2 separate regions of the Homo sapiens genome follow, and region 2 is linked to region 1. Evidence: fine-mapped expression QTL. Tissue or cell type: whole blood. Region 1 holds a variant in brackets; the other region holds the start of a gene. Each region is shown on its reference strand, or each on the opposite one. Region 1 overlaps PRORP (protein only RNase P catalytic subunit). Region 2 holds the start of RELB (RELB proto-oncogene, NF-kB subunit).

Region 1 (8,324 bases):
ATATGGAGAAACCCCCGTCTCTACTAAAAATACAAAATTAGCCGGGTGTGGTGGTGCATGCCTGTAATCCCAGCTACTCAGGCGGCTGAGACAGGAGAATTGCTTAAACCCGAGAGGCGGAGGTTGCGGTAAGCAGAGATTGCGCCATTGCACTCCAGCCTGGGCAACAACAGCGAAACTCTGTTTCAAAAAAAAAACCAAAAAAACAAAAAAACCCGTTGTCGGATATTCAATTATCTTCTCCTCATACCTGTTCTTGGTAGATGGCATCTTTCCAGGGTGACAAAAGAAAAGGAATTAGGGAGTGAGAGTTTGTTCACCCCATCACCCAAGCCGAAAACCTGAACATCATCCTGTCTTCTCCCATCACTGCAGCCAAACCAAATGGTGAAATTTTTATCTCCTAAAATGTTCTCAAAGCTGAGCTGGTCCTTCTCTACCCTTATTCTGGCTTTCATTTCCCTCATCATCCCACACCTGGACCACTCAGCAGCCGTCTGACTCAACTCCAGTGCCTCAATCTTATCCTTTTCAACTCCTTTTTCCAACCAGCTGCCAGAGAGGTCTCTCTAAAATATACATATCATACTTTTGCTTAAAACACTTTTTTTTTTTTTTTTTGAGACAGAGTCTTGCTCTGACGCCCAGGCTGGAGTGCAGTGGCATGATCTCAGCTCACTGCAACCTCCGCCTCCCAGGTTCCAGCGATTCTTCTGCCTCAGCCTCCTTAGTAGCTGGGACTACAGGTGCACGCCACCACGACCAGCTAATTTTTGTATTTTTAGTAGAGACGGGGTTTTCCCATATTGCCCAGGCTGGTCTCAAACTCCTGACTTCATGATCTGCCCGCCTCGGCCACCCAAAGTGCTGGGATTACAGGCATAAGCCACTATGCCCGGCCTGCTTAAAACACGTTAATGGCTCCCCAGAACCTATGACAATGTTTCTTAATAATAGCTGCTCATTATCCTATAGTATGCTATAGGACCAACCAATGAGAAAGGAGAGGCCCTCTCCTGGATGCCACTGCTCCTTCACACTCATTACTTCTCCAGAGGTTTATGATATTCATTGATACCAGGGATCAGCAATTTTTTTCTGTTAAGGGCCAAATGGTAAATATTTCAGGCTCTGTAGGCCACATGTTCTCCTTTATATCTACTCAACTCTGCAGGACAAAAGTACCATAGACAGAGGAGAAGGGGTGGAGCAAGAAGGCAGAATAAAAGGCTCCACTGATCGTCCACTTGCAAGGACACCAATTTAACAACTATCTACACATGTAAAAAAAGCACCTTCAAAAGAACCAAAAATCAGGTGAGGACTCACAGTACCTGGTTTTAACTTTGTATCACTGAAAGAGGCACTGAAGAGGTAGGAAAAACAGTCTTGAATCACCACTGCCATTCCTCTCCCATCCCCCTGCAGCAGCAATGTGGTGCAGAGAAAGACTCTGAGTGTTTGGGAGAGGGAGAGTGCAGCAATTGTGAGACACTGCATTGAACTCAGTGCTGCCCTGTTATAGCAGAAAGCAAAAATAGAACAAACTCAGCTGATACCCACCCACAGAAGGGGCATTTAAACTAGCTCTAGCCAGAGGGAAATTGCCCATCCCAGTGGTTGAAACTGGAGTTCCCACAAGCCTCACCACCATGGGCCAAAGTGCTCCAGGCCCGTAAATAAATTTGAAAGGCAGTCTAAGCCACAAGGATTGCAACTCTTAGGTGAGTCCTAGTGGTGAACTGGGCTCAGAGCCAGTGGACTGGTAGGGGCATGTGACCTACTGAGACGATAGCTAGGGGAGTACTGGTGCCATACCTCCCCTAAGCCCAGGCCGCACATCTCACAGTCTCCTAAACAGACCCACTCCTTCTACTTGAGAAGAGATGGAAGAGTGGGGAGGACTTTGTCTTGCATCTTGGACACCAGCTCAGCTACAGCAGGATGGGGTACCGGTCAGAGTCATGAGACACCCCCTTTTCTAGGCCCTAGCTCCTGGACATTTCTAGACACACTCTGAGCCAGAAGGGAACTCACTGCCTTGAAGGGAAGAACCCAATCATGGAAGGATTCATCACCTGCTAACTGAAGAGCCCTTGGGCCCTGAATAAGCAGCAGCAATATCCAGGTAGTACATCATGGGCCTTGAGTGAGACTCTGATATTGCTAGCTTCAGGTACCACCTCAGCCAGAGGTGGGTAGAGCACTAAGGGTGAGTCCCAGGCCAGGCAGCATGCACCACAAGCTGACTGAAGAGCCTTTCGGCCTTATGAGAACATCAGTGGGAGCCTGGCAGAACTCCCTGTGGGCTGGTGGTGGCGGTGGCCACACGGTGGGGCTCCTCTGCTTTTGGAAACGGGAGGGAAGAGTGGGAAGAACTGTGTCTTATCATTTGAATGCCAGCTCAGCCACAATACAACAGAACACCAGGTAGACTTCTAAGATTTTTGACTCTACTCCCTGGCTCCCAAATGGCACTTCTGGACCTGCTGAGGCCTGGGGGAACTTGTCGCCCTGAAGGGAAGAACACAGGCCTGGCTGGCTTTACCAACTGCTGATTGTAGTGCCCCAGGGCCTTGAGTGAACACAGACAGTAGCCAGGGAGTAGTTAAGCAGGCTTTGGGCAAGATCCAGTGCTCTGCTGGCTTCAGGTCTGGCCCAGCACAGTTCTAGTGGTGGTGGCCACAAGGGTATTTGTGTGACTACGTCCTCAGCTCCAGGTGGCTCAGAATGAGAGGGAGAGACTGTTTGTTTAGGAAAAAGTAAGGGAAGAGAACAAGAGCTTCTGCCTAGTAATCCAGAGAATTCTCCCTGATCTTGTTCAAGGCCATGAAGGCAGTACCTCTTACCACAGCATTACTGGGCTTTGGCTGCCCCCTAAAGCACATACAACTTAGATCACAACACCCAAGTCCTTTTAAGTATCTGGAAAGCCTTCTCAGGAAGGAAAGGTACAAACAAGCCCAGACTGCAAAGACTACAATAAATACCTAACTCTTCAATGCCCAGACATGGTATCAAGACCATCCAGGAAAACAGGACATCACAAAATGAACTAAATAAGGCAGCAGGGAACAATACTGGAGAAACAGATGTGTGACCTTTCAGACAGAGAATTCAAAATAGCTCTACTGAGTAAACTCAAAGAAATTCAAGATAACCCAAGAAGGAATTCAGAATTCTACCAGATAAATTTAACAAAGAGATTGAAAAAAAATTAAAAAGAATCAAGCAGAAATTCTGAAGCTGAAAAATGTAACTGGCATGCTGAAGAATGCATCAGAGTCCTTTAACAGCAGAAGGGATCACACAGAAGAATTAGTGAGATTGAAGACAGGCTATTTGAAAATACACAGTTAGGGCTGGGCATGGTAGCTCACGCCCGTAATCCCATCACTTTGGGAGGCCAAGTGGGCAGATCATGAGGTCAGGAGTTCGAGACCAGCCTGGCCAACATGGTGAAACCCCATCTCTACTAAAAATACAAAAATTAGCTGGGCGTGGTGACGTGAACCTGTAATCCCAGCTACTCAAGAGGCTGAGGCAGGATAATCGCTTGAACCTGGGAGGCAGAGGTTGCAGTGAGCCAAGATCATGCCATTGCACTCCAGCCTGGGCAACAGAACAACACTCCGTCTCAAAAAAACAAAACAAAACAAAACAAAACAAAACAAAAAAACACTAACTCAAAGCATTG[A/C]ATGATCAAACTTACTTTCCTTCCTTCTTCCTTCTTCCTTCCCTTTCCTTTGCTTTGCTTTCCTTTCCTTTCCTTCTTCCCTTTTTTTTTTTTTTTTGATGGAGTCTCACTCTGTCGCCCAGGCTGGAGTACTGTGGCGCAATCTTGGCTCACTACAACCTCCGCTTCACGGGTTCAAATGATTCCCCTGCTTCAGCCTCCCGAGTAGGTAGGATTACAGGCACGCACCACCATTTCCAGCTAATTTTTTTTTATTTTTAGTAGAGACAGGGTTTCACCATGTTGGCCAGGCTGGTCTTAAACTCCTAAACTCAGGTGATTCACACCCACCTCGGCCTCCCAAAGTGCTGGGATTACAGGCGTGAGCCACAATGCCTGGACGAATAATCCAACTTTCTTTTTTTTCTTGTTTTTTATTTTTTTGAGATGGAGATTTGCTCTTGTTGCCCAGGCTGGAGTGCAGTAGTGTGACCTTGGCTCACCGCAACCTCCGGCTCCCAGGTTCAAACGATTCTCCTGCCTCAGCCTCCTACGTAACTGGAATTACAGAGGCCCGCCACCACGCCTGGCTAATTTTTATATATTTTGTAGAGACGGGGTTTCACCACGTTGGCCAGGCTGGTCTCGAACTCCTGACCCCAGCTGATCCACCCACCTCAGCCTCCCAAAGTGCTGGGATTACAAGTGTGAGCCACCACACCCAGTTGAATAATCCAACCTTCAACGGATAAAGAAAGGATTGGGGCTGGGCGCAGTGGCTCATGCCTGTAATTCCAGCACTTTCGGAGGCCGAGGCGGACGGATCACCTCAGGTCAGGAGTTCGAGACCAGCCTGGCCAACATGGTGAAACCCGTCGCTACTAAAAATACAAAAATTAGCCAGGCGTGGTGGCAGGTGCCTGTAATCCCAGCTACTTGGGAGGCTGAGGCAGGAGAATCACTTGAACCTGGGAGGCGGAGGTTGCAGTGAGCCAAAATAGCACCACTGCACTCCAGCCTAGGGGACAAGAGTGAGATTTCTTCTCAAAAAAAGAAAAAAAGAAAGGATTGGCTAGGTGTGGTGGCTCACACCTATCTATAATCCCAGCACTTTGGGAGGCTGAGGCAGGCGAATCACCTGAGGTCAGGAGTTCGAGATCAGCCTGGCTAACATAGTGAAACCCTGTCTCTACTAAAAATATAAAAATTAGCTGGGTATGGTGGCAGATGCCTGTAATCCCAGCTACTCGGAAGGCTGAAGAAGGAGAATCGCTTGAACCCAGGAGGTGGAGGTTGCAGTGAGCCGAAATAGCACCACTGCACTCCAGCCTGGGTGACAGAGCAAGACTCTGTCTCAAAAAAAAAAAAAACCAAAAAGCAACTAGAGAAAAAAACAAATAACATACAATGGAGCTAAAATACATCTGGCAGCAGACTTTTCAGTGGAAACCTTACAGGCCAGGAAAGAATGGCATGACATATTTAAAGTGCTGAAGGAAAAACACTTTTACCCCAGAATAGTATATGCAGTGAAAATATCCTTCAGACATGAAGGAGAAATAAAGACTTTCCCAGACAAACAAAAGCTGAGAGATTACATCAACACCAGACCTATCCTACAATAAATGCTAAGGAGTACTTCAATCAGAAAGAAAAGGATGGCCAGCTGTGGTGGCTCATGCCTGTAATTCCAGCACTTTGGGAGGCCGAGGTGGGTGGATCACCTGAGGTCAGGAGTTCAAGACCAGCCTGGTCAACATGGTGAAACCCCGTCTCTATTAAAAATACAAAAACTAGCCAGGTCTGGTGGTGCACGCCTATAATCCTAGCTATTCAGAGGCTGAGGCAGGAGAATCACTTGAACCCAGGAGGCGGAGGTTGCAGTAAGCTGAGATCGCGCCATTGCACTCCAGCCTGGGCGACAGAGTGACTGCCTCAAAAAAAAAGAAGAAGAAGAAAAGGACCGTTACTCTGGTGACTCACGCCTATAATTCCAGCACTTTGGGAGGCCAAGGTGGGAAGATCACTTGAGCCCAAGAGTTTGAGACCAGCCTGGGCAGCATAGTAAGACCCTGTCTCTATATTTAAAAAAAAAAAATGGCAGAAAGAAAAGGACATAGGCCGGGTGCAGTAGCTCACACCTGTAATCCCAGCATTTTGGGAGGCCGACGCAGCTGGATAAAGTAAGGTTGGGAGTTCGAAACCAGCCTGGCCAACATGGTGAAACCCTGTCTCTACTAAAAATACAAAAATTAGCCGGGTCTGGTGGAGGGTACCTGTAATCCTAGCTACTTGGGAGGGTAAGACTCAAGAATCACTTGAACCCAGTGGGGGCGGAGGTTGGAGTGAGCTGAGATCGTGCCACTCCATTCCAACCTGGGCGACAGAGTGAGACTCCATCTCAATGAAAAAAAAAAAGAAAAGGACATTAATGAGCAATAAGAAATCATCTGAGGGTACATAACTCACTGTTAATAATAAGTACACAAAAAGACATAGTATATTATAACACTGTAACTATGGTGTGTAAACTAAAACTACTCTTATCTTTAGAAAGACTAAACAATGAGTTTAGTGAGGCAGTGCCTTACGCCTGTAATCCCAGCAGTTTGGGAGGCCGAGGCGGGCAAATCATGAGGTCAGGAGATCAAGACCATCCTGGTTAACATGGTGAAGCCCCGTCTCAACTAAAAAATACAAAAAAATTAGCCGGGCATGGTGGCGGGCACCTGTAGTCCCAGCTACTCGGGAGGCTGAGGCAGAAGAATCACTTGAACCTGGGGGGCAGAGGCTGCAGTGAGCTGAGATTGTGCCACTGCACCCCAGCCTAGGCAACAGAGCGAGACTCCGTCTCAAAAAAAAAAAAAAAAAAGAAAGTCTAAACAATGAACCAATCAAAAATAATAACGACTATAACTTTTCAAGACATTGATAGTACAGTAAGATATAAATAGAAACAATAAAAAGTTAAAAAGCAGGGAGACAAAGTAAAGGTGTAGAGTTTTTATTAGTTTTCTTTTTGCTTGTTTGTTTATACAGTGTTAAATTATTATCAGCTTAAAATAATAGGCTATAGTTAAGTATTAGTGAGCCTCATGGTAACCTCCAATCAAAAAACATACAAGGCTGGGCACGGTGGCTTACGCCTATAATCCCAGCACTTTGGGAGGCTGAGGAAGGCAGATCATGAGGTCAGGAGTTCGAGGCCAGCCTGACCAACATGGTGAAACCCTGTCTGTACTAAAAATACAAAAAAAAAAATTTGCTGGGCATGGTGGTGTGCGCCTGTAATTCCAGTTACTCAAGAGGCTGAGGCAGGAGAATCTCCTGAACCCAGGAGGTGGAGGATGCAGCGAGCCAAGATCGCACCACGGCACTCTAGCCTGGGCGACAGAGCAATACTCCATCTCAAAAAAAAAAAAAGAAAAATACAACAGATACACAAAAAATAAAAAGCAAGAAACTAAATTATATCACCAGAGAAAATCATCTTCACTAAAGGGAAGAAAGGAAGGAAAAAATAAGACCACAAAACAACCAGAAAACAAAATGGCAGGACTAAGTCCTTACTTATCAATAATAACATTAAATGTATCTAGGCACGGTGGGATATAACAAAAGCAGCTATAAGTGCCTATATCAAAACAGAAGAAAAACTTAAAATAAACAACCTAAATATGCATCTTTTTTTTTTGAGATGGAGTTTCACTCTTGTTGCCCAAGCTGGAGTGCAATGGCGTGATCTCGGCTCACTTCAACCTCCGCCTCCTGGGTTCAAGCGATTCTCCTGCCTCAACCTCACGAGTAGCTGGGATTACCAGCGTGCGCCGCCATGCCCAGCTAATTTTTTTTTTTTTTTTGTATTTTTAGTAGAAACGGGGTTTCACTATGTTAGCCAGGCCGGTCTCGAACTCCTGACCTCAGGTGATCCACCAGCCTTGGTCTCCCAAAGTGCTGGGATTACAGGCATGAGCCATCGCGCCCGGCCAAATATGCGTCTTAAAGAACTAGAAAAGCAAGAGTAAACCAAACCCAAAATGGAGAGACTAAATAATAAAGATCAGAGTAGAAATAAATGAAATTGGAATTAAGAAAACCATACAAAAGATCATGAAACAAAAAGTTGGTTTTTTGAAAAGTTAAACAAAATTGATAAACCTTTAGCCAGACTAAGAAAAAAGGAGAGAAGACCCAAATAAAATCAGAGATGAAAAAGAAGACATTACAACAAATACTGCAGAAATTCAAAGGATCATTAGTGGCTACTATGAGCAACCATATGCCAATAAATTGGAAAACCTACAGGAAATGGCCAAATTCCTAGACAGATTCAATATATTAAGACTGAACCATGAAGAAATAAAAAACATGAAGAGACCAATAACAAGTAACGAGATCGAAGCCATAATAAAAAGTCTCCCAGCAAAGAAAAGCCCAGGACCTGACGGCTTCACTGCTCAATTCTACCAAACATTTAAAGAATAATAGCAATCCTATTCAAACTATTCCAAAAAATAGAGGAGGGAAGACTTCCAAACTCATTCCATGAGGCTAGTGTTACCTTGATACCAAAACCAGACAAAGACACAGCAAAAAAAAAACCCAAAAAACAACAAAAAAAAAACAAAAAACTACAGGCCAATATCTC
Region 2 (8,324 bases), not on the chromosome of region 1:
CGCCTGGCTAATTTTTTTTGTATTTTTAGTAGAGATGGGGTTTCAACATATTGGCCAGGCTGGTCTTGAACTCCTGACCTTGTGATCTGCCTGTCTCGACCTCCCAAAGTGCTGGGATCACAGGAGTGAGCCACCACGGCCGGCTGTTTTTTTGTTTGTTTGTTTGAGACGGAGTTTCACTCTTGTTGCCCAGGCTGGAGTGCAATGCCATGATCTCGGCTCACGGCAACCTCCACCTCCCAGGTTCAAGTGATTCTCCTGCCTCAGCCTCCTGAATATTTGGGATTACAGGCATGCGCCACCACGCCCAGCTAATTTTGTATTTTTAGTAGAGATGGTGTTTCTCCATGTTGGTCAGCCTGGTCTAGAACTCCCGACCTCAGGTGATGAGCCTACCTCGGCCTCCCAAAGTGCCGGGATTACAGGCATGAGCCACCACATCAGGCGACATTATGTTTTAACTAGCGCTATGGATGATTCTGATGCACATGGTTTAAGAACCACTGTCTGGCCAGGCACGGTGGCTCGCGCCTGTAATCCCAGCACTTTGGGAGGCCGAGGAGGGCGGATCCTTTGAGGTCAGGAGTTCGAGACCAGCCTGACCAACATGGAGAAACCCTGTCTCTACTAAAAATACAAAAAATTAGCTGAGCGTGGTGGCACATGACTGTAATCCCAGCTACTTGGGAGGCTGAGGCAGGAGAATTGCTCGAACCTGAGAGGTGGAGGTTGCAGTGAGCCGAGATCGCGCCATTGTACTCCAGCCTGGGCAACAGGAATGAAACTCCGTCTCAAAAAAAAAAGAACCACTGTCTGGCCAGGCGAGGTGGCTCACACCTGTAATCCCAGCACTTTGGGAGGCTGAGGCGGGCGGATTACCTGAGGTCAGGAGTTCAAGACCAGCCTGGCCAACATGGTGAAACCCCATCTCTACTAAAGACACAAAGTGGGTTGTGGTGGCGGGTGCCTGTAATCCCAGCTACTCAGGAGGCTGAGGCAGGAGAATTGCTGAACCCGGGAGGTGGAGATTGCAGTGAGTCAAAATCGCATCAATGTACTCCAGCCTGGGTGACACAGCGAGACTCTGTCTCAAAAAAAAAAAAAAAAAAAAAAAAAACACAAAAAACAGACAAAAAAAACCCACACACACACCAAAAATGAACCACTGTTATAGACTGTCTAGTAATAATAATTATTATCGTTATTATTATTATACCACTAACAGTTAACACTTACTGAACCCTTACTGTGTGCCAGATACTGCTTGGAAAGTGTACCTGTATCAATTCATTGAATACTCTCAATTTCCCTGAAAGAGAGGCACTGTTATTCTGTCCATCTTACAGATGAGGAAAACTGAGGCCTGAACTGGGGAACTGACTTGCAGACATTCACACAGGGAGGGGCGATGACAGCAGTATGTAAACCCCAGCTCCAAAGCCCAGGATGGCAGTGATTACCTTCTACTAAGCCACAGTGAATCTCTAAAGAAGCCTTTGCGCATGGATAGGTGGTAAGATTTACCTGTCACGCTTTTTTTTTTTTTTTTTTTTTTTTTGAGTCGGAGTCTCGCTCTGTCTCCCAGGCTGGAGTGCAGTGGTGCGATCTCGGCTCACTGCAAGCTCCGCCTCCCAGGTTCACGCCATTCTCCTGCCTCAGCCTCCCGAGTAGCTGGGACTACAGGAGCCCGCCACCACGCCCGGCTAATTTTGTTTTTGTATTTTCAGTAGAGACGGGGTTTCACCGTGTTAGCCAGGATGGTCTCGATCTCCTGACCTCGTGATCCGTCCGCCTCGGCCTCCCAAAGTGCTGGGACTACAGGCGTGAGCCACCGCGCCCGGCCACCTGTCACGCTCTTAACAGTCCAAGAGGTAAGAAAACCTAGGGGGCCCATCTCAACTGGCAGGGAGGGATGCACCCTGTCAGGAGAAAGCTGAGGTGGACCTCGTGAACCCCCAAACAGAGACATCTCTGTGGAGTCCTCCCAACCTCATCCTGCATGAGCGAGTGGGCAGGAACTGTGGAGGGCTGCTCACCTGTGCTCCTGGAAACGGCGAGCGAGAGTGAGGAGAGGTCGGGGGACCCTGCAGAGAAGGAGAAACGTCTCAGGAGGTGATGGGGGGCAGCCAGAGGACCAGAGAATATCCCAAGGAAGCCCCACCCCTTCCTCTTCTAGCCCTTCCCCTCTGGATCAGGCCCCTCGCCCTGACTGCCCCCCTGCGTCTGGCCAGGCTTACCAGCTAAATCATGGACAGGTCCTGGCCTTTAGTTTCTGTGGTTCGCCCCACCCTTCATCACACTCAGGGCCCGCTCCTTTTCTCCCTTAAAGTTGGGCCTGGAGGGGACCCCATCTCAATCTCAGTTTAAAAAGTCCCCATCCCGCTGGGCACAAGGGCTCACACCTGTAATCCCAGCACTTTGAGAGGCCGAGGCGTGCGGATCACCTGAGGTCAGAAGTTCGAGGCCAGTCTGACCAGCATGGTGAAACCCCGTCTCTAGTAAAACTACAAAAATTAGCCGGGTGTGGTGGCGGGCACCTGTAATTCCAGCTACTCGGGGGGCTGAGGCAGGAGAACTGCTTGAGCCCGGGAGGCAGAGGTTGCAGTGAGCCTAGATCGTGCCACTGCACTCCAGCCTGGGCGACAGAGCGAGACTCCATCTCAAAAGAAAAAAACAAAAAACAAACAAAAAAAAACATCCTCCTGTCAGGGTCAGACCACTTTTAATTTTTTCAATGTCAAGGCTCCGCTTCTCCGTCTGGAGGCAAGCCCCACCCCCTCCTCATTCTCTGTGTCGGGCCCCGCCCTGCTTTTTTGGGTAACAGGCCCTTCCCCTCCACTCGGCCAGAGTCAGGCCCCGCCCCTTCCCCTTCTTTCGGCCAACTCAGGCCCCGCCCCCTTCCTGCCCTCACGGCCAGGCCCCGCCCCCTCACCCCTCAGCGTAGGGCCCTGCTTCCTTTTTTGAGTCAGGCCCGGCCCTCTTCTCATAGTCCGGGTCGGATCCCGCCCCTCTTCTCCCTCTCTGGGCCCGGCCCCGCCCCGATACCGCCCAAGAGCAGCTTTCGCTCCGCCTTCTCTGAGTCAGGCCACGCCCCCTTCTTTGCCTCAGGGTCAGGCCCCGCCCCCTCTCACTCTACAGCGGGACGCCTCGCTCGAACCTCGGGCCGTACCCCCTCATCACCCTCTGCCTTCTTCCTACGCCCTAATACAGTGTCTCAGGAACCCTCACTCTGCCCCCGCGAAACCCTTAGACTCCCATAGGAACCCCCAGACTACTCCGGGACCGCCAGAATCCCCGCATCTCCAGCCCCGCCCCAGACCCCTCTCCTGAACCCCAGCCCCGCTTACCTAAGGCCCCCAGCTCCGGCGCAGCCGGCGGTCTGGCGACGCGGCGACTCGGCATGGCCCGGCCAGTGGGGACGGACGGCCCAGAGGCTGGCCCAGACCGAAGCATGCACGCGGGCCGGCCGGGCGGCCGGGAGGCACGGTCTGGTGGACGATCGCGGGTCGGACGAGCGGCGCAAGGGCTGGGGCCGCAGGCCGGGCAGGACGCGCGGCGCCCGGGGCTGCGCGGGGCGCGGGGCCGGGCCGGGCGGGCGGCGGGCGGGGGCGGGGCGGCGGAATTCCCCGGCGCCGCCGGCCTGCGCGCCCATTGGTCTGCACCCCGCCGTGACGTCACGCCTGGGGAACGGGAAAACCCCCACGCGTCACGTGATCGCGGGGGCGGGGCCGGCCGGGAAAGGGAGGCTGGGCGCTCAGGAGGGGTTGGGCAGGCGTCGCTGCCCATTGCTCTGGACGAGACAACTGAGGCCTGCTTAGAGCCATCACGCCTTACCCATTGAGCAAGCCGGCAAACTGAGCCGCTCCCCGCTTTGGTCTCCCAGTGGGACTTGAACCTGCCGTTTCTCAGGCTGGAAGGGGAGCTTCAGGATCGAGAGGTTGGCAGGGCTCTACACCTGCCATCCATAATAATATTTCGGAAACCTCCAAGGTCTCGCTACACCTCAGTTTCCTCAACCGTAAATTGAGGATGAAGATATTTAAGGAACGTTTAAAGCTAGCGTGTCAGCTTCAGAATTTATGTTTTGTGCGTTGTTGTAACCCCAACGCCTAGACCAGCGCCTGGAACACCGTAGGTGCCCAATAAATGTTTATTGGAGGCCGGGCGCGGTGGTTCATGCCTGTAATCTCAGCACTTTGGGAGGCCGAGGCAGGCACATCACGAGGTCAGGATTTCGAGACCAGCCTGACCGACATGGTGAAATCCCATCTCTACTAAAAATACAAAAATTAGCTGGGCGTGTTGGTGTGCGCCTGTAATGCCAGCTACTCCGGAGGCTGAGGCAGGAGAATAGCTTGAACCTGGGAGGCGGAGGTTGCAGTGAGCTGAGATCGTGCCACTGCACTCCAGCCTGGGCAACAGAGCGAGACTCCCATCTCAAAAAAAAAAAAGTTTATTGGATGAATGCATGGATGTTTTATTTATTGGTTTGTTCCTCCCTGCAGCCCCTGAAAGTTACCCATAAATAGCCCAGACCACTTTGAGCTCAAAAGCTCAGTTATTCAGTCTGCGAATGGCAGCAGTGTAGCCTCCGTATACATCCTGAGCTGTGTGCCTAAACCCTGAGCTCATCCCTATCACCAGCGCCAGAAGCATATGATAGGATTATTGCAGAAGGGACTCAGGCTGAAAGAGGGGCAGCCATTTGGCTAGATCACATTCCTAAGCCTCTCATATTCCTGAGAACGACTAGGTGATCTATTAGGTTCTAAGTTGGATGCCAGGCGCTCTCAGACCACAGATGCAGGGTTTGTTGTCTTTCCTTTGCTTGTATAAAATTTGGGTGTTCTGGCTAGGCACGGTGGCTCACACCTGTAACCCCAATACTTTGGGAGGCCGAGGCAGGAGGATTGCTTGAGCCTGGGAGGTTGAGGCTGCAGTGAGCTGTGATGACGCTATTGCACTCCAGCCTGGGTGACAGAGTGAGACCTTGTCTCAAAAAGAAAAAGAAATAACTCTGTAAGTTGAATGTTCACAACAATTGTGTGAAGTATATGGTGTTATTGATCCCCACATAGCAGATGAGAAAACTGAAACCCGGCAAAATTAATTTCTCCAAGGTCACACAAATTAATAGACACAAATATTTAAAACACAAAATTCTTAGAACAGGGCCTGGCACATGTGGGTGCTATATACAAATGTGAACTTTTTTTTTTTTTTTGAGGCAGGGTGTCACTCTGTCACCGAGGTTGGAGTGCAGTGGCAGGAACATGGTTCACCACAGCCTCAACCTCCTGGACTAAGGGGATCCTCTCACCTCAGCCTCCAGAGTAGCTGGGACTACAGGCACACACCACCGCATCCGGCTAATGTTTTCTTTTCTTTTCTTTCTTTTTTTTTTTGAGAGATGGAGTCTCGCTCTGTCACCCAGGCTGCAGTGCAGTGGTGCGATCTCAGCTCACTGCAATCTCTGCCTCCCGGGTTCAAGCGATTCTCCTGCCTCAGCTTCCCAAGTAGCTGGGACTACAGGCATGAGCCACTGCGCCCAGCCTGTTTTCTATTTTTGTAGAGAGAGGATCTGTTGCTTAGGCTGAGCCAGTGCACCTGGCCAAAGGGCAACTAACTATTAACATCATTTTATTTAATACTCATGACCGTCCTATTATTAGACCCACTTTACAGACGGGAAACTGAAGCTCAGAGAGATGAAGTCAGTTGCCTGAGGCCACACAGCTGGTGAGCTGGGACCACAGGTGTGCGCCACCATGCCTGGCCTAATTTTTGTGTTTTTAGCAGAGATGAGGTTTCACCATGTTGCCCAAGCTGGTCTCAAACTCCTGGATTCAAGCGAGCTGCCTACCTCAGCCTCCCAAAGTGCTGGGACTACATTTCTTTCTTTCTTTTTTTTTTTTTTTTTTTAGTAGAGATGGGGTTTCACCATGTTGTCCAGGCTGGTCTTGAACTCCTGACCTCAGGTGATCCGCCTGTCTTGGCCTCCCAAAGTGCTGGGATTACAGTCGTGAGCCACTGTGCCCAGCCCTATTTCTTTCTTTTTTTTTTTTTGTTGAGATGGAGTCTTCCTCTGCCACCCAGGCTGGAGTGCAGTGGCGCGATCTCGGCTCACTGCAAGCTCCTACTCCCGGGTTCACGCCATTCTGCTCCTCAGCCTCCCGAGTAGCTGGGACTACAGGCGCCCGCCACCATGCCTGGCTAATTTTTTGTAGTTTTAGTAGAGACAGGGTTTCACCGTGTTAGCCAGGATGGTCTCAATCTCCTGACCTCGTGATCCGCCTGCCTTGGCCTCCCAAAGTGCTGGGATTACAGGCGTGAGCCACCACACCCGGTCTTCTTTCTTTTATTTAAGACATGGGATTTTGCTGTTGCCCAGGCTGATCTTGACCTCCTAGCCTCAAGTGATCCTTCTGCCCGAACCTCCCAAAGCGCTGGGATTACAGGCGTGAGCCACTGTGCCTGGCTCTTCAATTTACAGTTATTACACACAGCGTAACAGTGTCAGGCACTGCTCTAAAAGCTAGGGACATAGCAAGGCACACAGCAGACAAAAAGCCCTTGCCATCAAGGAAATCCAAGTGAGGAGACAGATGGAAAACAGATAAGCAAATATTATGTCTGATGGTGATGGCAGTATTACAGGATAGAGCAGGATAACGAGAAGGAGTTCGGAAGATAGTTTGGGTTAGGAAGATCAGGGTCTGAGAGGTGCCATTTGAACAGGGAGTCAAAGGAGGTGAGGGATTCATGTGGATATCTGGGGGAGAGTGTTCAAAGCACAGGGGCTAGCACGTGCAAAGGCCCTGTGGTAGGAACATGCATGGCATGCTTAAGGAATAGCAAGAAGGCTGGTGCAGAGTGACTGACAGGAAAGGGGTAGAGATGAGGGCAGAGTGATGGACCAGTAAGGTGACGAGGACACTGAATAATATTAAATGTAATGGATGAAGCCAACCACATGCAGCACTTACACTAGTGCTTGGCTTATGATAAGGATGACAAATAGCAGCTCCAATTGTTATAGGACCAGAAGCTCTCCTGATTCCTCTCTGCCTCTTGCCAATGCCAGGCCTCAAAAATGTTTGTTGAGGCTGGGTGCAGTGGCTCATGCCTGTAATCCCAGCACTTTGGGAGGCCAAGGCAGGCGGATCACCTGAGGTCAGGAGTTCAAGACCAGCCTGGCCAACGTGGTGAAACCCCGTCTCTACTAAAAATACAAAACTAACTGGGTGTGGTGGCATGTGCCTGTAGTCCCAGCTACTAGGGAGGCTGAGGCAGGACGATCACTTGAACCCAGGAAGTGGAGGCTGCAGTGAGCTGAGATCACGCCACTGCACTCCAGCCTAGGTGACAGAGTGAGACTGTCTCAAAAAAAAAAAAAAAAAAAAAAAGTTTGCTGAATGACTAAAAGGACATGTCAGGGCCAGGCACGGTGGCTCATGCCTGTAATCCCAACACTTTGGGAGGCTGAGGCAGGCAGATCACCTGAGGTCAGGAGTTCAAGACCAGCCTGGCCAACATGGTGAAACCCCATGTCTACTAAAAATACAAAAATTAGCTGGTGTGGTGGCGGGCACCTATAATCCCAGCTATTCAGGAGGCTGAGGCAGGAGAATCACTTGAACCCAGGAGGCGGAGGTTGCAGTGAAGTGAGATCGTGCCACTGCACTCACTCCAGCCTGGGTGACAGTGACTCCATCTCAAAAAGAACACAAATAAATAAAAAGGGGCCAGGCACAGTGGCTCACGTCTGTAATCCCAGCACTTTGTGAGGCTGAGGCGGGTGGATCATGAGGTCAGGAGTTTGAGACCAGCCTGATCAACATGGTAAAATACCATCTCTACTAAAAATACAAAAATTAGCTGGACGTGGTGGCGCACTCCTGTAATCCCAGCTATTCAGGAGGCTGAGGTAGAAGAATTGCTTGAACCTGGGAGGCAGAGCTTACAGTGAGCCGAGATCGCGCCACTGCACTCCAGCCTGGGCGACAGAGCAAGACTTTGTCTCAATAAATAAATAAATAAATAAATAAAGGATAGCCAGGCGCCGTGGCTCATGCCTGTAATCTCAGCACTGTGGGAGGCCGAGGCAGGCAGATCACTTGAGGTCAGGAGTTCGAGACCAGCCTGACCAATATGGTGAAATGTGAAACTCTGTCTCTACTAAAAATACAAAAGTTAGCTGGGCTTGGTAGCAGGTGCCTGTAGTCCCAGCTACTCAGGAGGCTGAGACAGGAGAATTGCTTGAACTCGACAGGCGAAGGCTGCAGTGAGCCGAGATCGTGCCACTGCACTCCAGCCTGAGCAAC

The links. PIP is the estimated chance that this variant, and not a neighbour inherited with it, causes the effect. A credible set is the group of variants that fine-mapping cannot tell apart.
Region 2: it holds the start of RELB, and the variant in region 1 is the best candidate, but not a certain one, in a credible set for the expression of RELB in whole blood (TOPMed, PIP 0.69).

Annotation. Positions count from the first base shown.
Region 1 is chr14:35,128,255-35,136,578 of GRCh38, reverse strand. The region is part of intron 4 of PRORP (protein only RNase P catalytic subunit); the gene reads right to left. The region is part of intron 4 of PRORP-PSMA6 (PRORP-PSMA6 readthrough); the gene reads right to left. Among named protein-coding and RNA genes, the nearest start is that of PRORP, 9.9 kb to the right of the region's middle. The variant A/C (reference allele first, on the strand shown) is at 3,698.
Region 2 is chr19:44,996,709-45,005,032 of GRCh38, reverse strand. It overlaps RELB (RELB proto-oncogene, NF-kB subunit), which reads right to left and starts at 3,569. Exons shown (of 12, transcript NM_006509.4): 1 at 3,348-3,569; 2 at 2,037-2,084. The coding sequence starts at 3,453. RefSeq lists silencers at 2,736-3,015, 3,336-3,745.